Regions from separate parts of the Homo sapiens genome. Here region 1 is linked to region 2. The links come from fine-mapping of genetic effects on gene expression. A gene starts in region 2. The other region holds a variant in brackets. All regions are shown on one strand. Distances are from middle to middle.

Region 1 (9,613 bases), 69 kb after region 2:
TTGCTTTGAAATGATTGCTGTTAAGTGATTAATTTATAAAATATGGAGGGAAATGAAAGGATTCAAATAATTTGACCTCTTGGGCTCAAGCAATCCTCCCACCTAGAATATGGCTAATTTTTATAAATGTTCCATGTGTATTTAGAAAGAATGCAGCTTTTTCGGTTATTAAGTACAGTGTTATATTTATGTCTAAGAACTTGTTAATTGTTCTCTTCATATCTTCTCTGTCTTGGTTTTGTTTTGGATTCGGGTTTAGTTTTATTTGGGGACTGATTTATGAGTTTCTCTAGTAAGAAAGACATGGTAATTAATGTCTCTCACCATGGCTATGGGTTTGTCAGTTTCTCCTTATAGATGTGTTAATTTTTGCTTTATTTATTTTGAATGTATGCTATTAAGTACATTAATAATAAGCCAAAATAATTAAACAATTTAGAATTAGAATTGTTTTATCTGTTTGTTGAATTGAATTTTTATCATTATGAAAGGGCCCTCTATCTGAACACACTTTTAGCCTTACAGTTTTTTTTTAATTGTTGTTATTGCTGTTTTCTTGGATTAATATAGCTAGTATAGTTTTCTTTTGGTTACTGTAGTATTTTCATTCTTTTTTTTTTTTTTTTTTTTTTTTTTTTTTTTTTTTTTTTGGAGACGAAGTCTTACTCTGTTACCCAGGCTGGAGTGTAGTGGCATGATCTCAGCTCACTGCAACCTCCATCTCCTGGGTTCAAGGAATTCTCGTGCCTCAACCTTCTGAGTAGCTGGGATTACGTGTGTGCACCACCATGCCTGGCTAATTTCTGTTTTTTAAGTAGAGATGGGGTTTCCCATTTTGGCCAGGCCAGTCTCGAATTCCTGACCTCAGGTGATCGCCCGCCTCAGCCTCCCAAAGTGCTGGGATTACAGGCGTGAGTCCCCGCACCCGGCCAGTATTTTCATTCTTTAGTTTTTCATGTATTTTGATTGGAGTTTTGTAAATAGAATAAGGTTGAGTTTTATTTTTGTTCTGAATGACAATCTTTATTTTTTAACTGGAGAACTTTAGTCAATTGTGTTACCGATAGATTTAGTTTTTTTTTTTTTAATTTTTTTTTTTCTTTTTTGAGACAAGATCTCACTCTGTTGCCCAGGCTGGAGTGCAGTGGCACGATCCTTTAGCCTCGATCTGCTGGACTCAACGATCCTCCCACCTCAGCCTCTCAAGTAGCTGGGACCACAGGCATGCGCTACTGTGCTGGGCTGATTTTTTAATTTTTTAGAGATGTTATCCCACTATGTTGCTTAAGTTGGTCTTGAATTCCTGGACTCAAGTGTTCCTACTGCCTCAGCCTCCCAAAGTGTTGGAATTACAGATGTAAGCCACCGTGCCCAGCTCTGATTTACGTGTATTTCTGTCCCCTTCTGTGGTTTTTCTATTTATCCAATTCTTCCTCTCATTCTTGCCAGTCTTTTGTGTTGAGTTGGACATATATATTTGTCTCATTCCATCTCCTCTCCATACCTTGCATGCATGTATACTTGTTTATAATTAATATATTATTTATTCTTTTAGTGGTTGCTCTGGCTATTTTAACATGCTTTTCTTAGGAAAGTCCAATTAATCAGTATCTTTAACCTATTCCTGAATAATGTAGTAACTTAGCATGCTCTGGTTGTCCTCCTCCCAACCTGTAACAGTGTTGTCTGTTATCTTAGTTTTGGCATATTCTTCTTATGCACACATACAGAATTTTAGACAAATTACTGTTTTAGGTAGTAAACCTTTGTTTAAATTTATTTACCTAATTACTGTTTTCTTGGCTTATTGTTCCTTTTTGGATCTGAGACCTTTCTTCTATGATAATTTTTTTTTTTACCTGAGGTACGTTCTTTAGAATTTCCTTTAGTGAAGATCCTTTGGTGAAACAGACACTTTTTTCTTTGTTTAAAGATGTCTTTATTTCATCTTCATTCTTGAAAGGTAGTTTCTCTGTGTGTAGAATTCTGTTTTCTCATGATATTGAAGACATTATTCCAGTACTTTGACTGCTAGTATTGCTGTTGAAAAGTCTTAATTGCCCTTCCTTTGTAAGTAATAACCCTTTTATTTGGCTGTGTTAAGCCTTTTTTTTTCCTTCCCATTTAGTGTTTTGCAGTTTTGTATAATGTATTGAGGGCGTTATTTTTTTCATTCCATCATTTTATTTTTTGTAATCCCACTTGGGATTCTTTGGGCTTCCTGGATCTGAGGATAATAATAATGTCTTTGAATAATTGTGGAAAATTCTTAACCATTATCTCTTTGAATAATGCCTCTTATTTTCTCCTTCTATAACTCTAATTAGACATATAGTCTATTTTTCATGTTACTTATGCCTTTTCATCCTTTTTCGTCTCCACAAACTCATTTAAGAGCTGGCTTATAGTTATAAATTCTTGCAGGAGATTTTCTTCTTTCTACCATCATCAAGATCAAGCAGGCAAGTTTACTTGCTGTCATCTTCTGCAAGGTAGGTTTACTGCTCATTCATTTGTACTTTGTGGATTTTGGGATTTGCAACTGTATGGAAGGCAGTCTTGATCTATATAGTCTGTCTCCCGCAGTCTGCAGTTTTCTAAGCAGCATTATGAAATTACCTTAAAGTCAAGAGCCACCTTTCGTAGCTTTTTACATTTGTGCCAAAATAGGAAAATGTTTAATAATAAAATTAAAAAAACAAATTTTATATATATATATATATATATATATAGCATTGCAGATTATATATATATATACATATATATATAAAGCATTGCAGATTCCAGCAGTAGAGCCAGTCTGGACATCTAACCTACCATGTTGCTAGAAATAGAATTCCTTGATCCATTTCAAATAACATACAACTTACGTAAGGTTTGTATGAGAAACATAATACAGAATGCTAATCGGCGGTCTCCCATTAACAAAAAAAGGCCCTGGCCTTAAGTTTGGTAAATTCATGCCTTTTTATATGTTTAAGCTAAAATAAAATGATTCATGCCTTTTTATATGTTTAAGCTAAAATAAAATGATTCATGCCTTTTTATATGTTTAAGCTAAAATAAAATGTTTAAGGTAAGGAGTGTGTGTGGGGGTGGTATGTGTGTTTTAATTTCCTGCCTTATCCAACTAACTTCATGTCCATTTGAATTAAGATGGATTCTATTGGACTTCCTCTTTTATTCCTCACATTATACATTTGTCACCTTTTTCTCTTTGCAACAAAAATGGCATGTGTTAAGTTTATATTTTTAAAAATTTAGGTTCCCTTATATTATTCAGATGCATTATTTTCAAAACACATTCATAAAAAGTGATAATACCCTATCTATAATTATATTAATCTTTCAACTTCATAGTCGTAGTCTATTCTCCATGAGTTTATTTCTATATTTTGTTATGCAAATTCTCCACAAAATAACATAACATTTAGTTACACAGAGGCCCTCCTAGATGCCATGACACCCCGGTAGCAAGAGCACACCAAGAACCCAAATCTTGGTTTCTAATACAAGTTGATTATCCTTATCCTTATCCTTATCCTAAATGCTTGGGATCAGATGTGTTTTGGATTTCAAGGTTTTTGTTTTGTTTTGTTTTGAGACAGAGTCTCACTCTGTTGCCCAGGCTGGAGTGCAGTGGCATGATCTCAGCTCACTGCAACCTCTGCCTCCTAGGTTCAAGTGATTCTCCTGCCTCAGCCTCCCGAGTAGCTGGGATTACAGGCACACATCACCATGCCTGGCAAATTTTTTGTATTTTTAGTAGAGATGGGGGTTTCACCATGCTGGCCAGGCTGGTCTTGAACTCCTGGCCTCTTGATCTGCCCACCTTGGCCTCCCAAAGTGCTGGGATTACAGGTGTGAGCACCGTGCCCAGTTGGATTTCAGGGGGTTTTTTGGATTTCAAAGTATTTGCATATACATAATGAGATATCTTGGGGATGGGACTCAAGTCTAAACACAAAATTTATGTTTCATATATGCCTTTACACATAGCCTGAAGGTGATTTATACAATATTTTAAATAATTTTGTGCACGCATCATGTGAGGTCAGGTGTGAAATTTTCCACCTGTGGTGTCATGTTGGTGCTCAAAAATTCTCAGAATTTTCCAGTTAGGGATGCTGAATCTGTACCCTTCTCCTTTAAAAAGGACCAGGGTTCCTTGGAGAAATGGCTTAATCTAGGACTAGGGCAAGAAATAGACAAGATCCACTTTGGGAGGCCAAGGCGGGCAAATCACGAGGTCAGGAGTTCGAGACCAGCCTGGCCAACATGGTGAAACCCCGTCTCTACTAAAAATA[C/G]AAAAAATTAGCTGGGCAGGGTGGCGGGCGCCTGTAATCCCAGCTACTCGGGAGGCTCAGGGAGGAGAATCACTTGAACCCAGGAGGTGGAGGTTGCAGTGAGCCGAGATTGTGCCACTGCACTCCAGCCTGGGCGACAGTGCGGGACTCCGTCTCAAAAAAATAAAAATAAACACTGGGTGTGGTGGCTCACGCCTGTAATCCCAGCACTTTGGGAGGCCGAGGCGGGTGGATCATGATGTCAGGAGATTGAGACCATCCTGGCTAACACAGTGAAACCTCGTCTCTACTAAAAATACAAAAAATTAGCTGGGTGTGGTGGTGCGCGCCTGTAGTTCCAGCTACTAGGGAGGCTGAGGCAGAGGAGTGACATGAACCCAGGAGGCAGAGCTTGCAGTGAGCCGAGATGGCTCCACTGCACTCCAGCCTGGACGACAAAGCGAGACTCCATCTCAAAAAAAATAAATAAAATTAAAAAAAATTAAAAAATAAAAATAACAAAATAGACAAGATCAGCTTAGAACATCTTGTAGTGCCAAAAAAAAAAAGTAAAGAAGGGCTTTAACAAAAAACCCACAAAATGGGACTATGTCAAAGGGGCATAGGAGTCACCTAAAAGAGCTAACAGTGATCAAAGTTGGAATAATTTGAAAAAGAAAATAAGTAAAGTATAAAGTAGTATTGAATTATAACTCAGAGTATAAAATAAATATCCACGGGCTGATACTGGTATGAATAAATGATTGAATAAATGAATAAATGATTGAATAAATAAGTAAATGGAGAAGAGACAAATCTGTACAGAAGAACTCCAAATAATGTATGTCAATACTCCACTTTCCTCATGGTGAAACACAACTCCCTAATCCTTAAGTGTGGGCTGTGCATGCCTTTCTTCCAAGAAGTACAGTACTTCCAAGAAGTGCAGAAGAGTTCGGGGAGAAGTAACTTCACAGTGGAGAAACCTGACAGCCAGGTAGGTTGTCAGGGGTAACATCAACAGTGATAAGTCATGTTGATAGTGTGTTTCAAGGGCTATGTTGTGATAAAAGTGGCACTTTATCTCTGTGATCCTCCTGTCCAAATCCCATACTCCCAGTCTAATTATGAGAAAAGCATCAAATTCCAAGAGAGGAGAGGCATTCTACAAAATACTTTACAGGTGCTCCTGAAAATGGTCAGGATTATCAAAAACAAGAAAAATCTGAAAAACCATTACTGCCAAGAGGATCCTTAAGAGACATGATGACTAAATGTAATGAAGTTTGTTTTTTTAAAAAACCACAAAACTGAGTCCCTCAAGAATTTTTTTAAACCTAGAAGTCACATACTTTGCAACTTTTATTAGATTTTAGATCGCATCCCACTCTTGAATGCATATTTCCCCGGGAGCAACCCATGTTTTAAAAAATTTAGTAAAGGAGGATATCAGATAACCAGTTCTTACAAACAGGCCCAACATTTATTATGTTGCATTTGCTGCCATCTGAAGGCCTACTCACACAAATGGTAGAAAGTTGTGTTTATTAAAATCTTAACTTCTTTAATATTTCAAATTTTTAAACTTCAGGGTAAACAAAATTCTTATGAAAATACTGACACTGTACCTTAGAATGTATAATTTAACTGAAGGAAGCGTGTGTATGTGTGTTTGGCCTACTCTGTAAAAATAAAGAATATAGCATTAATATTATTAGGCCCAGTTAGTCTATTCTAGTATAGTTACTGGTACAAAAGTAACACTGGGCCAGGTGCAGTGGCTCACACCTGTAATCCTAGTACTTTAGGAAGCTGAGGCAAGTGGATCACTTGAGCCTGGGAGTTTGAGACCAGCCTGGCAACATGGCGAAACTCCTTCACTATTAAAAATACAAAAATTAGCCACATGCGGTGGCATATGTCTGTAGTCCCAGCTACTCGGGAGACTGAGGCAGGATGGTCACTTGAGCCCTGGAGGTGGAGGTTGCAGTGAGCCGAGATTGCACCACTGCACTCCAACCTGGGCGACAGGGTGAGACCCTGTCTCAAAAAAAAAAAAAAAAAAAAAAGTAACACTGTATTATTGTAATTCAGGGGAAGTAGTTTTGATATAAATCTAATAACTTTATGTAAAAAGTCTTCTTATTCTTTGATGTAATTCTAACAAATTTTTTATAATTTAAAGGGAGATACTGGTTTCAAATAAGTTATTTCTCCATTTTCAGAATAATTTTTCCTCACACACTCGAAAGATGATTTTATTATCTTTTTATTATTAAAGCAGATATTATCAGGGCCATATATTAAGAGCATTTATTGCCTCTACAACCAGATATAGGTGGCGGGGGGTTATGTTCTGAATATTTTTCTTTACTGACAGACATACTTAGTATAACAAACATATTAATTTGCAGCATTCTAATTAAAAAGTGAAAATGTGCGTGCTGTCAGACCCAATCTTAAACAGGTTCAGCCTTATCAACTAGAGGAATTTAAAACCTTACTTCATGATGCCTTTGTCTTTGATTTATAGTTGGTCGTTCGTATCCATAGGTTCCACACCTGCAAATTCAATCAGCCACAGATTGAAATTATTTGAAATAGAAAGCAGTATAAAAAATATTACAAAATACAGCATAACAACTATTTAGATAGCATTTGTAAGTAATCTAGAGGTTATTTAAAGTATGCAGGAAAAAAGTATAAAGAAGAAAAAAGACTAGCTCTAAAATTCTTTATTTTTTCAAACAGATTTTTAATGAATCAGGTTATGTAAAGAAAGAAAATATTTAAACTAATATTGTTTGTAGCTAAACCATTATTTCATTGGTCTGTGATGTTCCAAACTTGTACCTTCCAACCATATGTAACCATGTTTCTATTTTCGCTGAAATAACTCAGTAGACCAAAGATGTTGGTGTTGGAATTGCATATGGCAGATAGTTCAAGTATATTCAAAGTAAATTCTAGTTAATATTAAGTACCTTTTAATGTTAGAAATTAAAAGAGCTTAGGAAAAGCTGTAGGATGAGAAATCCAATATAAACAGTTGTTTCAATCCTAGAGTATCTTCACCTTCACCCAGGCTCATCCCAGGACTGCAAAACGTCAAAGAATGAGCTAGCTTGGAGGAAATAATGTGGCTTGGATAATGACTCTTAGGCAGTTAACTTACCTAGATAGTGTCTTCAGGAGTTACATCTGCTATAATAACTATAATGCAAATGACAGTTTTTGAATCTATAGTACAAAAAGGAAAACATCAGGTACTACCTCAGTCTTATGAGTATACTTGCTCACATTGATAACAACATGGTAGCATTGCTTCTAAAAGAAATTTTGTGATACTGTATCTTAAATTCCATATTTTTCATGAGATAGCTGTCAGTTTACAGACAAATCTAAGTGATAATTTTGAGCCCCATTTTTACAAGTCATCTCAATAAGTAACTATTAAGTAACATATGTTAATAAGTAAAAATGTAAAAGCATTTGGTTGTAGTTTTATTGATATGTTTGCACATTGCAGAAATTCAGGAACAAATTTTATGAATACTTATGTTGCTATTTTTAAACAATATCTGAGATTATTCATTCAACTAAAACTTATTAAGCATTTAATATCTGTCTGGCATTCTTCAGGCACCAAGGATATTTCGTTGAACAAAACAAAATCTTTGTCACTATGGAGTTTACGTTTTGTGGTGGCATTGGAGTGAAGAGCTAGGGAATAAAAAAACAAGTCAATATGTAGTATGCCACTTGGTGGTAAGTCATTTGGAGAATGATGTAGTAGGGAAAGAGGAAAAGGGTGTAGCATCATGGGCTAGTGGGTAAGGGTTTATCTATTTCATATGTAGTGTGCTCAGGAAAATTCTTCAATAAATTGATTTGTGAGCAAAAACCTGAAGCAAGTGAAGGAGCAAGCTATGCTGATACCAGATAGAAAAGCATTCCAGGTACAAAGAACAGTAGTTGCAAAGGACCTGAGATAGGAACATAATTAGTGTATTCTAGAAACAGCAAGGAGGCCACTGTGGCTGGAGCAGAGTATGGAGAGAGAAGAATTTTAAGGTACATGATCAGTAGTGGAACAGGAGAGGCAGAAAATGATACTAAAAAATTAGGATCTCATAGAGACCATTGAAAAATCCTTAATTTTTATTCTCAGAGGAATAGGGGGAGCCATTGCAGGCCTTTGTCAGGATAAATTGTGAACCACTTTGAAGTGGACAAAAAATGACAAATGGGTGTCCTGTCTAGCTCAGCCATTGAGTTTATCTCTGTCTCATTTTGTGGGCAGGGTCGGGGGGGTGGGGAGGCTTTCTTTTTTTTTTTTTTAAGAGTACTGGAACTTAACAGAAAACTTCTTAAAAATGCAATTGAATCATAAACATTGATGTAAAAATCCTCAACAAAACCAAATTCAGCAGCATATCAGTGGGATTATATACTATGATCAAGTGCGTCTTATTCCTGGAATGCAGGGATGGTTCAACATATGAAAATTGTTCAATGTAATATACACATTAAAAGAATGAATGGGAGAAAACCACATGATTGTGTCAATTGATGCAGAAAAAACATTTGACAAAATTCAGCATTCTTTCATGATTTAAAAAAACACTAAAACTAGAAGTAAAAGGAGCCAGGTGCAGTGGTTCATGTCTGTAATTTTAGCACTTTGAGGAGGCTGAGGTGGGTGAGTCACTTGAGATCAGGAGTTTGATACCAGCCTGGCCAACATGGTGAAACCCCATCTCTACTAAAAATGTAAAAATTAGCTGGGCATAGTGGTGCGCACCTGTAATTCCAATTACTCAGGAGGCTGAGGCAGGAGAATCACTTGAACCCGGGAGGAGGGGGTTGCAGTGAGCCGAGATCATGCCACTGCATTCCAGCCTGGGTGACAGCAAGACTCCATCTCGGAAAAAAAATTAATAATAAATAAATAAATAAAAGGAAACTATTTCAACGTAGTAAAAGCCATATATGAAAAATACAGTGAATGTCATATTCAGTGGTGAAAGACTGAAAAGATTTTCCTCTAAGATCAGGAACAAGGCAAGAATTCCCACTTTCACCAATTCTATTAAATATCATACTGGATATTCCATCCAGAGCAATTAGGCAAGAAAAAGAAAAGGCATCCAAATTGGAAAGAAGTAAAGTGGTCTCTGTTTATAGATGATATGATCCTGTACATAGAAAACCCTGAAGAGTCAGCATTTTCATCTAACAACAATATGAAAAAGAAATTAAGAAAACAATTTCATTTACAATAGCATCAAAAAGAATAAAATACAAATAACCAAAGAAGTGAAAGA
Region 2 (8,932 bases):
CAGAAAAGAGTGAAAAGTGTCACAGTAGAGTGTGGAAGTTAGAACTTAAGCTGTGTGGTTAGGATCAGATCTGCATTAAACCAACAAACAAAATCAAAGAACCCCATTATTTCAAAGCTTGGCAAAGGGTGGACACCCAAGTAGATGGCTCTTTTGTTTAACAAAACACCTTAATGGATTTTGGGGGTAGGAGCTATGCATAGACAGGGCCACAGCCTTGCACAGTTCCAGGGGGCATCATTTGTGTTTGTCACCTCTTGAGCATCATTCATGTTGTATTCTTTGTGAATAGCACCCCCTGGAATTGCACAACATGGTAATTGTGTCAATAAAGGTGGCCTGGAGTCTGGCCTGAGATGAGGATTGAGAGTTAAATCCTTCTACATAATAAAGTAAAAGGAATTTTAAGTCTTTCCTAGTGGGTAGAGGCAGGCGGGTAGAGGGATGCCTGGAATGGACAGAAGAAAAGGGTTAGGAGAAAAGACATCTCTAAGATGAGGATGGGCCAGCAATTTGGCAACAACCTGGAGCCGAATGAGCCTGGTGAGAGATTGCTTGTAATTTTTGCAAGAGATGCATACAATCCTCTGTCATCTTCTACCTCCAGGAGACACTGGTAAATGAAGTCAAACAACTTTTTCTTTGGCACTCTTCTTTATGAATCAGGAGATAATTGGGAAAGACTTCACCGTCCAGAATCACACAGCAACACTTGCCTAAACATACAATGCCTTAATAACTTGCCTTTTTACTGTTTTTCTTTAAAAAGCTGAAAGTGCTTACACTTTCATTTCCTCATTTGTTCTGACATTCCAGTGTGGGTGGGGCAGATTTATGATAACATTATTTATAGATGGAGAAATCGAAATAGAGATTAAATCGCTTAATCAATGTTGCATAGCTGGGGCAGTGGAGCCCACAGTGGAATTTGGTTCTCCAGGCTCCAGCCACGAAGTGGAAAGAACATGAGTTTTGGAATTAGAGGGATCTTTGCACAATCCTGATTCTGCCCCTTAACAAGAATGTGGCCTTAAGTCAATTACTTCACCTAAGTCTCAGTTATCCTCATCTCTAAAATTAAGACCATAAAACCTCATAGCAATGTAGTGAAGATTAATTTAGAAAACGCGTGTAAAGCCTTGGCATAGAGTAATTCCCAAATAATATTAGTTCCACCCCCAACCCAGTATTATCTGGTTACATTTCAGTACAAATTTAAAGTAATCAAAATGAATCCTCCATTATAGTAATTTTTTTTCTAGCCTCATCTTCTTTCACTGAGAGCAAAACATGAATAAAAATCCTTCAATAGGTCATTTAATTCAACGGCAAGAACTTTTGCTCCGGTAAGAGTTATCCCTGTTGGAAAAAATTAGAAAAAAAGAGGAATATGTGGAAGACAAGATATTAGTTCTTAATATCTTATGCAGTGGTTCTTAAACTTGACAGTATATCAGAATCTCCTGGAGGGCCTGTTAAAACACAGATTGCTGGGTCCCACCCCAGAGCTTCTGATTCATAAGATCTGGGGCGGGACCCAGTAATGTGCATCTGTAACAAGTTCACAGATGATGTTGAGAGGCTTAGTCCAGGGACTTCTAGGGGTGGGGCCCAGCAATCTGTTTTAACAAGCCCTTTAGGTGGTTCTGATGCACTCTCAAATTTGAGAACCACTGGGATAGTGGTGAAAAGCATCTGAGAATATGGTCTGCAAATTCAAACCCAGGCGGCTCCATTTACCAGTTAGATGACCAGATTAAATGACTAACCTCTAGCACCTCTGCATCCCACACAGAGCCTGATAATATCTGTGATTCAGGATTCCTCTCACTATCCCTTTAGGCCTTGAGTAAAAAGAGATGTCGGTGAGTCCTGCCAACCCACGCTGTTTTTTACTTCTTCACACTCTGAGGCACAAAAGGCTGCTTGAATTTGAGTATTACGGAAGTATTTGCCAACACTTCTGCGATCACAAAAATAAAGTAAGAAAGCCCTGTAAATAAAGCCAAGAGCAGTGGCATTGTTTGCATCTTAAATTTGTAATAATGGGTTTTCAACTTTTTTCCTTTCCCCTGCCTTTCATAGTAGAAACATTTAAAAATCTTCCCCGCCACCCCCCCCCCCCCCAGTTTCAAGAGATGTTAGTACATTTGTTTTGCAGATAGTATGCATTGCTAAGAGGCTTTTTTTTCTTTCCCTGCATCCCAGATACAGAATCTGCCTCAGATATCTGGTGCCTTTCTGATTTTGTGGCTGAGGAATCCCACGCCCTCCTCCTTTCCATCCCTTTTCCCTGTCTGGTATGTAACTCTGTGGGTCCTCATATTATCACTGCATGGAGCTTCACAAGCACCTGTATTTTTCCAGTTGTAAAAACCCCTACTCTTTCTTTTTTTTTTTTTTTTTTTTTTTGAGACGGAGTCTCGCTCTGTCGCCCAGGCCGGACTGCGGACTGCAGTGGCGCAATCTCGGCTCACTGCAAGCTCCGCTTCCCGGGTTCACGCCATTCTCCTGCCTCAGCCTCCCGAGTAGCTGGGACTACAGGCGCCCGCCACCGCGCCCGGCTAATTTTTTGTATTTTTAGTAGAGACGGGGTTTCACCTTGTTAGCCAGGATGGTCTCGATCTCCTGACCTCATGATCCACCCGCCTCGGCCTCCCAAAGTGCTGGGATTACAGGCGTGAGCCACCGCGCCCGGCCAACCCCTACTCTTTCTTATTTCCTTAACTAATCTTTTCTATTGCCTATTGCTGATGAGGTATAAGAATCGTTAACTTTTATCCAATGCCAGACATTCTGAAATGTTTATCATGCATTATCATTTTGGATTCCTACAATGCAGAGATGATTTTATAACTTGCCAGGGTGAAAAAATAAAAGTAAATAAAAGGAGACAAGCAAAAAGATTCCAGATCCCCACCCCAACCCCCCCAACCCCCCAACCCCAGCTCTCGCCTCTGTTGAAGTCACCAGTGATGACAGAATATAGGAATATAGTTTGAGCCCTGTTTTTAAATAATTTCAAAATCTTGGTATAGGTAGATGAGATTTATACACACGTGAATTAAAATCAACCAACATTTGTGAGATTGGGTTTGGTATCTTTGACCGTTTTTCTCCCCTGCAAGACGTAGATAATAGCACCAACCCCAAGGAGTTTGGGGATGATTAAATAAGTTAATGCACCCGAAGGGACTTAATACAGTGCCTACCACGTAGTAAGCGTTCAATAAATGTTAACTATTATCATTATTTTTTAAAGGAGGCAGATTGGAGCGTAGAGTACACTGAAGGGAGTCGGGAGGCCGGGTGTAGGCACTGGATTCTTGCACCTAATTCTCCGAGCCTCGGTTTCCTTATTTGTAAAATTAGCTGGCTGGAGTAAAACAACTCAAACAGCAGTTAAAGCAAAGGGTGCAGCAGTAGCCGGGGAATCGAGGAGGCGCGGGGCGGAAAGGGTTAGTTAGGAGCCCAGAGGCTGATCTGTGGGCGCCCGGCGAGAGAGGCCCCGCCCCGCCCTGGAGGCCCTGGCAGCTCCGGGCTGAGAGCAGTTCCGGTGCCAAAACCCTTCCCTCCCCCGCTCCCCCGGAAGTGCTTTTCCAAGATTCGGGCCGGAGAGAGGCCTTGTAGGCACAGCGGCTGAGACTCGATCTGCTCCAAGTAGGGGCTCCAGCGCGGGTCGGAGTCTGGGGGTTCGCGCCCGCCGACCCGCGCCCTGCTCCCTCTCAGCACCTGGGCGGACGGTGAGTGGCTAGGGAAACGGACTGGGACGGCCGCGGGCCCGCGTCGGAGCTGGCGTTCTCGTGCCCCCGCTGCCCGCTTCGGGATCCGGGCTGAGGGCTCGGCTGCCGGCGTCCGGGGAAGGGGATTGTCGACCGCCGCGGACTTCTCCGGGCCAGCGGGACGGGAAGAGCTGGCTGTGGGTCCATGGGGTGGGCGGGGCGGAGCCAGGGAGGGGGTTCCCAGAGCTGTTGTTGCTGTTGGGACTCGAGAGTGGGGATGGGCTGGGCCTCTGTTCGTCCGTCCGACCCCCCTCATGTGTGCTGCCCCAAACCTCGCCGCTCCCTAGTTTGGTATTCTGTGTCCGGCCTGGGGTAGTAGCTGGACACCAGACTCAATCTTGGGCTCCAGTTCCCGACTTTTCGCCTCCTCTGGGTCTGTCCTGGGGTCAGTAATTAACCCGGGTCCCAGGGGTGTCGTCTTTTCCCTCCAGGGTGGGGCGCTGCCTGTACATGCCAGGGATCTTTTGCAGGGCTTTTCATCCAGATTTGCTTCAGGGTTGTCCGGGATCGATTTGGACTGGGCTCGGAACCGGTCCTGGATACGTAGGTCGCTGTGGCACCAGCATGCTCTGTATCATCTTTACTCACTTGAAAGCTTGCTGAAGCTGTTGTTGAAGTAAACTTAAAGAAAAAACTTGCTTAAGGAAAATCAGTAGTTTAGACACCCCCTCCCCCGCCTTTTTTTGCAGACATACTAAAAAAAAAAAGATGCTTTTCTCTAATCTACACTCTTAATTCTTTTGGCTATCTGATGTCACAGTTGTATGATGAGTTCATTCAGAGGCTGTACGAATTGATTTTAAAGAGTTGGACAGTTATATCCTTTCTCCCAAAGTTTGTTTACCTTCATATTTGGAACTGTCATTTTTCTTAAGGAAAAATTGTTCTTGGATTTTCTTGAGAGATTCCTTACACTGTTAAAATTGTTGCTGCAATGCAGAGTTTCACACAGGTGGGCAGAGATGTTTTGTTTAAACTTATTCCATGAAGTGTTTACTTCGGATAAACTGAGGATTTCCTAGGGGAGAAAGTGATGTAGGTAGGTTTAGTGAACAGATTTTAGGTAGTAAACTTTACTGCTGAAAGGTTTGTAGGAAATATGGGTTTTCCACAATAAATGGTGATTTAAAAACTTTTTATAAGGGAATGCAGTTACTGCAGATTATTGCTATTAGCAGATGGCCACTGTTTTTGCAGCGTAAAGTATTCACAAATCACCTTCTTGAAACCAGTGACGCTATCTGCAACTCTCATCTTGTGTGTAGATTAGGGTTTATTCTGTAGTTTTTTGGGTACTTATGTCATTCTCTTTCCTCCCACCCCTGAAAGGGGAGGTGGTATCATGAATCAGGAAAAATAGACTGAAGTGACAAGTTCAGTGAGCTTTTCCTATGCAAAGGAAAATTTATTTCAAGGTTGTTGATTTTGAACAGGCAAAGGGTAGATGATTTTTAAAGTCCTTGGAAAAAATTGTGGAGAGATTAGCTGCACAACTTTTCTTTTTCCTCTTCCTTTCTTTTCTTTTTTCTTTCTTTTCGAGACAGCCTCATTCTGCTGCCCAGGCTGCAGCACAGTGGCCCCATCATAGCTCACTGCAGCCTCCAACTCCTGGACTCAAGCAGTCCTTCTGTCTCAGACTCCTGAGTGGCTAGGACTATAGGCACCAACCACCACACCTGGCTAATTTTTTTTTTTTTTTTTTTTGTAGAGCCGAGGTTTCACTATGTTGCCCAGGCTGGTCTTGAACTCCTGGGCTCAAGTGATCCTCCCATCTCGGCCTTCCAAAGTGCTGGGATTACAGTTGTGAGCCACCATCCCCAGCATATTTGCACAACTTTTAAATTTAGATAGAAACTGTAGCTTCTTCCACATGTGAAGTACTTAATTATTTAGAGCATAAGATTGGAATATTGGAATTGAGAGAATCTGGAAAAATAGTTAAGTTAGATGTAGTTACAGATTTGCAGGTATGACAATGTATTTTTAAGGGAAATACTTCAAGAGTTTTAAGAGCAGAGAAAGGTGATTGGGGAAAATCAGATACTGATTGTATTTTTATATTATACAAGTCAATTCAACAAACACTGAGCATTTGCTATGCATGTTATGCTATGTTATGCATAGCATGCTATTTGCTATGCTATGTTAGGTAACTATGTAAGGAGCAAATAAAGGTATAGCCATAACAGTTGAGTTTCATGTTTTGGTAATAATTTCTGAAATCATGAAGAGTTGAGTTGTATTCTTTAGGCATACTAACAATTTTTTTTGTAATTGGGACTTAACATTGGCGATGGGTGTTGAGTGCTTCATGAAAAGCGCTATACTAGGCATTTTAGGATATAAAGATTAAACTTTTGGTTTTTAGGAATTTGAAATCTAGAAGGGGATATAAGATTTGTGTAAACATTTACAACATAAACATTTGTAAATACTTATGGGTGGTTTGAGGTAAAGTTTGGAGTAAATTATACAAAAGAAGAAAGGGTTCATTTTTAGCTTAAGTAATGGAAATTTGTGGAGATAGCTCAGAAGCTACTGTTTATTGAGCATTTACTGAACAGACTTAATGCTAGTTGCTGTTTACAGCATTTTCTTAGCTTCACAGCAATATGTAAGTACCTTAATAATGAGGACAGTGAGGCTCAAATATGTTAAGTTACTTGCCTGGGCTATGTGGCTAGCATGTAACAGCCCCAATTTGAATCCAAATCTGTCTGGTGCCAAAGCCTGTGTGTTTCTACTGCATCATGTTGCTCCCCAATAAACTGGTAACCTGAGTTTAATGTTACAGAGAATAAGACTTTTCTAAGACAAAGATTTATGGATTGGGAGTAGGTGGGTGAAGAAGGCCTTTCAAATAAAGAGAATGATGTGAGCAGAAGTGTGGAGGTGGGAAAGTTCATTGTGTACTTGGAGAAAAGTTAGTGGACCAGATTACCTGGAATATACTGTTCATTTTTGGGAATTAGAGATGAGGTTTGAATTTTAAGTGGGGGCAGGATTGTGGAGCATGTTTAAGTGCTGCTTTTAGAAGTTTGACATTTGGGGAAAAAAAGTTCGACGTTTGGGAGGTAATGAGAAGTTACCAAGGTCTAATAGAGTAGTGTGCAGAATGATTTGATGTGGAAAGCTGACTTTCAATGTAGTATAAATACTGGGCAAGGGCAGTGGTAATGGAATTAGAGTGAAGGCTCTGCAGGACCTCAATGTCGTAGGTGGGTGGCGAGGAGGAGGGGTTTTTGGAGCAGGTTTGGAGGAGATGGAAGGTGAAGATTACACTTTTGTTTTTGAGACAGAGTCTAGCTTTGTTGCCAGGCTGGAGTGCGGTGGCGTGATCTTGGCTCACTGCAACCTCCGCCTCCTGGGTTCAAGTGATTGTCCTGCTTCATCTTCCCGAATAGCTGGGACTACAGGTGCTCACCACCACGCCCAGCTAACTTTTGTATTTTTAGTAGAGACGGGGTTTCACCATGTTGACCAGGATGGTCTCGATCTCTTGACCTCGTGATCCGCCTGCCTCAGCCTCCCAAAGTGCTGGGATTACAGGTGTGAGCCACTGCGCCCAGCTGAAGATTACACTTTTTAAGTGTCGGAGATGTTGACGGTGGTACTCTTACTAGAAATACGGGCAAGGAGGTACGTAATGAGATCAGTTTTGGATTTGTTGACTTTTTTGTATACTTGCCAAACGCTGGAAATGTCCAAAGGCTTTTGGAAATGTGGATTTGTGGTTAAGGGGAGAGGTCAGGACTAGGCATATATTAAACATGGGTTTAGTGAATAATACAAATAGGTGTACTGGTTGAATCTGTGTAAGAAGATGAAAGTGCCAAGGGAGAATGTAGAGGGGAAAGAAAAAAAAAACTTCTGTTTTAAATGGCATCTGTTTAAAACAGAAGGAAATATGCTAAGTGATTTATTTTATGCAGTGGGTAAAGAATTTGATAGTATGTCCACTGCTTCTTCACACTGTAGGTTCACACGGAGTAGAAAGAATCTGATCATTAAAAATCCAATTGGGAAATACAGTTTTCTTGCCCTGGGTAGCAAGAATACTATGCTATCTTTACCCTGTTTCAGGGAGGACAAACTACTTCAGACTCATTTCATCCAGAGTGTCAGATTTGGTTACTTAAAAGCTATGTTAGCTTGTTTCTTTTGGACATTTGTTTGGCAAGTGGTATGTGAGGAGTTGGAAGCAAATCTCTGATACAGTATTTCACTTATTTATGTGTATGACATCGATTTTGGTTTCAAAATCAAGAACCTCTGAATATTCAAAGATAATATTTACATCTCATTAAGGCTGTTAATATTGCTTTTTATAGAAAATGGCATTTGATTACATATTTTTCTTCCAACTCTATTTTATAAGTTCTTTTGATTAACATGATTAGTTTTGGCTTATAATGTTTGGATTATATTAGAGGGATAGAATAAGATACTTTTATCCATTATATGATAACACATATGAAAGTTACATATTTTATTTTGGAAACTGTTTAAGAACTGTAAATTTATAGAATTTTGTGTGGTTTTCTGTTTAGGTATTTAAATAGGGGGAACTTGAGTATTAATGTGTAAAAGATTATAATAGTTTGCAGAATGAGGCTTAGAGTTGTAACTTTTTGAGGGCAAGTTTATTATTTTTAGACTGAGTTACCATGGAAGTGTTTATTTCCTTCTTGAGAATTAATACATTCCTTTTGTTTTTCAGGAATATGTTTTCCACTATATCACAGGCACTTGGGAATGTCGAAAGAGTCCTGTGTCAGTGTTGTTGGAGGCAGGGGGTTTTGTGTGTGCTTTGTCTGGGCTGTTTGGCTTAGTTTCAGTAAGCCTGGTATTAATGAGGCAAAGGTCAGGAGTTCCATTTAGCTTCAGTCTAAATGATGGCCAGGGAGTACACCCCTCACTCCCTCCAGCTGTCTTGGAAATTCCTTGGTTGTCATTGGTCACAAAGGTGACTAGATGAGGGTGGATTGTTATACCACTGGAAGAATATTAGAGGAAACTTAGGATAATGGCTGGGACCTCTGACTCTAGAATTAGATAGACCCGTGTCAAAATCCTTGGTATTCAACCTTGGGAGAGTCCCTAAACTTCTCTAAGCTTACATTTCCTCATTATTGAATAGGTTAATATTT

What was found. PIP is the estimated chance that this variant, and not a neighbour inherited with it, causes the effect.
Region 1: its variant is fine-mapped to the expression of FRS2 in whole blood (INTERVAL, PIP 0.95).

The regions. Positions count from the first base shown.
Region 1 is chr12:69,535,492-69,545,104 of GRCh38, forward strand. The region is part of intron 3 of FRS2 (fibroblast growth factor receptor substrate 2); the gene reads left to right. Among named protein-coding and RNA genes, the nearest start is that of SNORA113, 25 kb to the left of the region's middle. The variant C/G (reference allele first, on the strand shown) is at 4,308.
Region 2 is chr12:69,466,788-69,475,719 of GRCh38, forward strand. It overlaps FRS2 (fibroblast growth factor receptor substrate 2), which reads left to right and starts at 3,601. Exons shown (of 9, transcript NM_001278356.2): 1 at 3,601-3,743. RefSeq lists enhancers at 1-601, 3,272-3,773, 3,945-3,994.